Regions from separate parts of the Homo sapiens genome. Here region 1 is linked to region 2. Evidence: fine-mapped expression QTL. A gene starts in region 2. The other region holds a variant in brackets. All regions are shown on one strand. Distances are between the middles of the regions.

Region 1 (2,909 bases), 26 kb after region 2:
CCCACACCCTGGAATTCACGTGCTTGTGTAGCCCCTCCTACATTATATCACATAGGTCTGTGTGACCAATAGAATCTGCAGAAGTGATGCCACAGTACTTCCAAGATTAGGTCATAAAAGGTCCTGTTGCTTCCCTCTTGGTTTCTTTCCCTCTCTCTCTCCTCTCTCCTTTCTCTTGGACCCTTTGCTCTGGGGAAACCAGCTGCTACATCACCATCAGCCTTGTGACCATGCCACATGGTAAGGAGCTGAAATCTCAGCAGCCACATGAGTGAGCTCGGCAGCGGATCCTTTAGGCCCCGTCATGCAATCCTGGATTGCAGCCCTGGACATCCACTTAACTAGCAAGACTGAGCCAGAACCACCCAGATGAGCTGCTCCTGGATTCCCAACTCTCAAAAACTGTGAGAGATGTTCAACGGTGGTTGTTTGAAACTGCTGAGTCTCAGTATAATTTGTTACACAGCACTAGCTAACTCATACACGTCACGTTTCTGCAGCAGAATACCTTGGACCTGGGGAGAGCTGGAGATAATTACTCAGTACCACCCAGTACATGGGAAAGTGATTACTGACAGGCTCAGAAATGTTAAGAAGATGCTTAAAAGAAATGGGCTCATGAGCCTTCTTTGCTGAAGTATTAATTACTAGATCTGAATGTTTTGCTTTTCTGTGATGGAAAACGTGAAGAAAATAGGGCTTTTTTTTTTCTTTTGAAGAGATGGGATTTCCCTCTGTCGCTTAGGCTTAACTGCAGTGATTCAGTCATAGCTCACGGCAGCCTCAAACTCCTGGACTCAAGCAAATGACTGATATTTTTTGAGCACCAGCAGTAACGATAGTTACTATTCACTGTTTTCTCCCTGCCAGGTGTTCCACAGACATCCTACATGCATGACATTGATTCACTCTTACATTTGACAGGTGAGGAGACCGAGGCTCAGACAGCCACACCATTCCATGGGTTTTGTTCAAAGGGGTTTGGGGCCAGAGTAGGACTGAGTGCAACTTCATGGAGGTAGACCATGGGGAGGGCAGGGCACCTGCATGCCTGAGAGAATCTCTGCAGGAGGCAGGAGTTCAGAAACTAGCTACTTAAAGGGGTAATGATCTGTGTCAGGGGTGCTAATTAAAATTTGGGGTTTTAAAGAAAAAGTTGGCTGAGTGTGGTAGCTCATGTCTGTAATCCCAACACTTTGGGAGGCCAAGGAAGGTGGATCATTTGAGGTCAGGAGTTCGAGACCAGCCTGGCCAACATGACGAAACCTCGTTTCTACTAAAAATACAAAAATTAGCTGGCCGTGGTGGCGGGTGCCTGTAATCCCAGCTACTTGGGAGGCTGAGGCAGTAGAATTGCTTGAACCTGGGAGGCGGAGGTTGTAGTGAGCCAAGATCATGTCACTGCATTGCAGCCTGGGGGACAGTGTGAGACCCCATCTCAAAAAAAAAGAAAAAAACAACTTTCCAGTTCACAAAAGGAGTGCTTTCACTGAATGCAAGAATAGATTTTCCCTCTTGGTGTGTAAAGTTCTCAGTCATCTGACCCTCTCTGCCAAGAGAGCCCTTCCCGCCCCATTTCTGCCCGTTTGGGCTCCTCTTCCTGGAGAGGCTGCTCCCTGGTGCTGTCCCGT[G/A]CTCCCAGCCTGTCTTCCTTCAGGGTCCAGGCCGGAAGCCTTTGGGGGCAGTGTTGGGGCTCCGCATGTGCCCAGTGCTCAGCCCAGTGCTGGGGCAGAGATGGTGCTCAGGAAAGATCTTGAAAAATGAGCAGGTCTCCAGCCGAGGGGAATCTTACACCTTCCACCTGTTTCCTCAGGATTGCAGGAGCTCCTCAGACAAGATCTGTGGCAACAGTAACAATAAAAGCATCCCATGCGGACCAAACTCCTGCTGCAGTAAGAGCTAAACATATGGTGTCTTACTTTGCCCTCGTTATTACCCCTGAGGGCAGATGGTGCAGTCCCTCTTTATAGAGAAGGCTATAGAAGCCCCAGAGCCATCAGGAATTGGAGGTGATGCCTAAAGCCGGCAGCGCCCAGAGCGGGGTGTTCAACCTGGCAGGGTTGTTAGGGCAAGAGGATTGCGGGGGGAGGGGGGGTGGGCGCAGCACACCCTCCTCCTCATACCACCTCACTTTGTCTCCCACTGCCCCTCCAAGCGTCAGCAGCCCAGGCCACTGTGTGTGCCAAGTCTCCTGTATGTCTTTCGCCTTTTGCTGAGGAAATGCTATTGTGAAGACAAAATGAGAATCAGTCACTTAGGGGCCAGGTGCAGTGGCTCATGCCTGCAATCCCAGCACTTTGGGAGGCCAAGGAGGGCAGATAACTTGAGCCTGGAAGTTTGAGACCAACCTGGGCAACATAGTGAGACCCCGTTCTATAAAAATTAAAAAATTAGCCAGGCATGATGGCACACGCCTGTAGTCCCAGCTACTCAGGAGGCCGAGGAAGATCTCTTGAACCCAGGAGGTCAAGGCTGCAGTGAGCCGTGATTGCGCCACTGCACTCAGGCTTGGGTGACAAAGTGAGACCCTGTCTCAAAAATAAGCCCCACCCCCCAAAAAACCCAGTTACTTAGAGCTTTGCAGAAATCTTCAAAATCTATCAAAACCATCCCATCCAATATAAATTACTGTATACATTATAACGAGCTAAAATAAGCACATTTTTGGTAAATTACTAAATTTCATAAGTTCCTCAAGTTGGTTTCATCCAGTAAAATGCTCCCTTTGGGGAAGTGGCACGAGGAGAATCAACTGAAGCCAGGACTGTCGCTCGTCCTGGCAGGCAGTTGGGACCCGGTTCCATCAGGGACTTTCTGAGGACGTGTGCAGGCTCCACGGGGGTTACTGCTCTCTCCCTGCGCTGGTGTGGGCTGTCCCACAGGGTGACGTGTCCTTGGCATTTCTGTGGCTG
Region 2 (2,870 bases):
GATGGACATCTGGATCATTTCCAGTTTGGGGCCATCAGGAAGAAAGCTGCTGTGGGTAGTTTTGTTCATGTCTTCTGGTACACATAAGCTCTCATTTCTCTTGGGTGAGTTGAGGAATTAGTTGGTCATCAGGTATTCATATGTTTAGGTTTTGTAAATACTACCAGTTTGCCAATGTGGTTTTATCAATTTCATGAGCCATGTATGAGGGTTCCAGCTGTGACATCCTCGACAAACTAGGTATTGTCAGTCCTTTTAATTTTAGCCATTCTTGGGTGGGTGAGGGCAGTGAAGAGCTATTCTTGACATGGAATGACAAGACCTAGTGTGCCCGAGGTGAAGGCCTGAGCGTCCAGGGGAGCATGAGCCTGTCTTCTATGCCCTGCTGTGCTATGGCAGTGTTTCAGTGTGCTCTGGAGGAAAACAGCAGAGAAGCCGAGTGCTCCAAAGTGGGCAGAAATGAGACAGGCATAATGTGCTAGGCTAATGGTGACTCTTGGAATTTTGTCATTAGCTACAAAGAGGGCAGTGACATGATTTACACACACACACGGGGTGGGGTATCTGAAATATTAGGCAGCTAGTATGGCAGGGGCACCGTCTAATCAGCATGGATGCTGGCCAGGAGAGGACATGTGTATGTGCTGGCTGGAAACAGTCCTGCTCATAGGTCACGATCTTAATGATTAAATAACAAGGCAAGAAATCCGAGAGGGCAGTGCCTGGGAGCACCCTGTTTGCTCTGTGGCCAGAACGCAGCACACTGAAGTATTGCCCATCAGGGTAAGAGGTGCTCGTGATGGTTTGGGCAAATACAAATATTAATCCAGAGTATTTGAGTCTACATGAAAATACTGAAAAGTGAGGGAAGACCCAACCGTTTCCAAGAAATACAAATTGGAACTGGCGATAACTTAAAGAACATAATCAGAGAGGCAGAGGGCATTGGGTTTTACTAAAATATGAAGACATACGTCCTGTCTCCACGTCAGCAACTGCCCAAAGTACACGCGTTCCAGCGAAAAGAGCGGGTGGGGTGGGGAGGCTCAGGGCCAGCCAGAGCTTCGGTGCTTGCACGCCCAGGCCTCCGGGTGACGACTGCTTCCAATTCCGCGCCCTTTAAACCCCATGTTGTTAAAAAAAAAAAAAAAGAAAGAAAACCTATTTCTCTAAAAGTCACGATTCGAGCCCCACCTGAGGACGCAGCGATCCAGCGCCAACTCATTATCTGAGATAAAGGAGTGATTTTACCAGAAGCGCCTATGCAAGACGCAGGGCCCCGCGCGGGCTGCTCCCACCTCTTTCTCTCCTTGCAGGCTACCGAGACCCTGGCTGGGGCGGCCGGCGGCCCCTCCGGCCCATCCGTCGGAAATGATGAGTGGCTCCAGTGGCCGGGGTCCGCAGGACCTACCCCAGCGGGCATGGCGGGAGCCCCGCAGCCCCACACAGCCGCGCTCTGAGCCGCTGACCCCGCGTCTCTCGTGAGGGACCAATCAGCTGCCAGCTAAGGTCACATACCTAGAAGGCCAATTTTGATTGGCTGGGCGCGGGCTAGTCAGCGGGACGGGCGGGCGCGCGGGCGTTGTTGGGCTCCTCTGAGCGGTTGAGGTTGGGGCTGGGGTTGAGCTCGGGTTGGGTTCCTCCTGGGGCAGGAGGGAAAGGCGGGAGCCAGGGCGTCAGGGCCTGCGGACGATGTGTGTGTGAAAGGGCGCGTCAGCCATAAGAAGCCATATGCGTGCGAGCCGGTCCCCACCGTCCCCGCGGCGTTGTCACCATCATCATGAGGCCACTGGAGCAGCCTCAGGCGCTGCTGCCGGGGGGCCGGGCGCGGGGTGCGTCGGGCTCTGCAGGTTGGCACTCACACCCAGCGCGCAGGATGGCAGGCAAGTGAGTCCTGAATCCTGCCCGCGGCTACCCGACACCTCGCCTGTGAGTTCCCGGCCCGGCATTGCTCCATGACCTATGCACAGGCAGAACTCTTGACCGCCACCCACAGGAACCTCACTTACATTGGCTTAACAAAAACGCAACTGATGGTTCCACATAACTGAAAATGTCAGAAGTAGGCCTTCAGGCATGGATGTATCCAGGTACACATTGACCATGGTCCTGGAAGGTTTCTCTCCATCTCTCAGCTTCCTTCCTTTTTGCTGGCTTCCCTTGTGGAGGCAAGATGATCACCAGGACCTCCTGAGGTTTACATGTTATCAGATTATCAACCTCAACAAAAAGGAGATTCTTTTTTTTCCCAGCTTTCCAGGCTGGGCAGTGGTGAGTTTGGCCCACCTGAACTACAAGGACTGAGATGGCTGTGGCCCCCCCCCTCCCCACCAGGAATATAGCAGTGCTGTCATTACCAGAAGGGGCCTCGGATGCTGTGGAGGGCAGTGCCCCATCCTCTGTTTTCAAGCATTATCTGGGAGAGTTGATGCGTGAACCTATTACTCTCACAAAAATAGCAATAATAATAATGGTTATTATGACAATGAAACCCAAAAACACTTATATCGCTCTTACGGTTTCCACATACAAAGCACTTTGACCCACTACTGTCAGGGAAGCAGGGCTTTGCACCCACTGGAGACGCTTCATCCAGCCAACATTCAAGCAGTTTGTTGGGGAGTGGAACAGGGAAGAGCCACACAGGCTGTGTAACCCCAAGTGCTTTGTCATCCCAGAGACAAAGCACCCGGGTTTTTATAGTGGAAGGAGGTTCATTAATGGACAGTTTGACGATGTTTTTTCTTCAGTATTTCAGTAAGTTGAGGGTGTCTGACAGATCATCCTAGGTGATGTGATTGGCAGCTACATGTCTTGGAAAGTTCTCAGCAGGTTGGAATGCTCCTGTCTTTTCTGATGCTCCAAGCACA

The links. PIP is the estimated chance that this variant, and not a neighbour inherited with it, causes the effect.
Region 1: its variant is fine-mapped to the expression of C16orf95 in gastroesophageal junction (GTEx, PIP 0.96).

What each region holds. Positions count from the first base shown.
Region 1 is chr16:87,289,699-87,292,607 of GRCh38, reverse strand. It overlaps LOC101928682 (a long non-coding RNA gene), which reads left to right and starts at 156. Exons shown (of 5, transcript NR_104667.1): 1 at 156-240; 2 at 871-924; 3 at 1,811-1,889. The variant G/A (reference allele first, on the strand shown) is at 1,632.
Region 2 is chr16:87,316,104-87,318,973 of GRCh38, reverse strand. C16orf95 (chromosome 16 open reading frame 95) reads left to right here and starts at 1,582. Exons shown (of 7, transcript NM_001195124.3): 1 at 1,582-1,883. The coding sequence starts at 1,732. It overlaps C16orf95-DT (C16orf95 divergent transcript), which reads right to left and starts at 1,465. Exons shown (of 2, transcript NR_135180.1): 1 at 1,252-1,465; 2 at 931-1,117. RefSeq lists an enhancer at 1,555-2,004.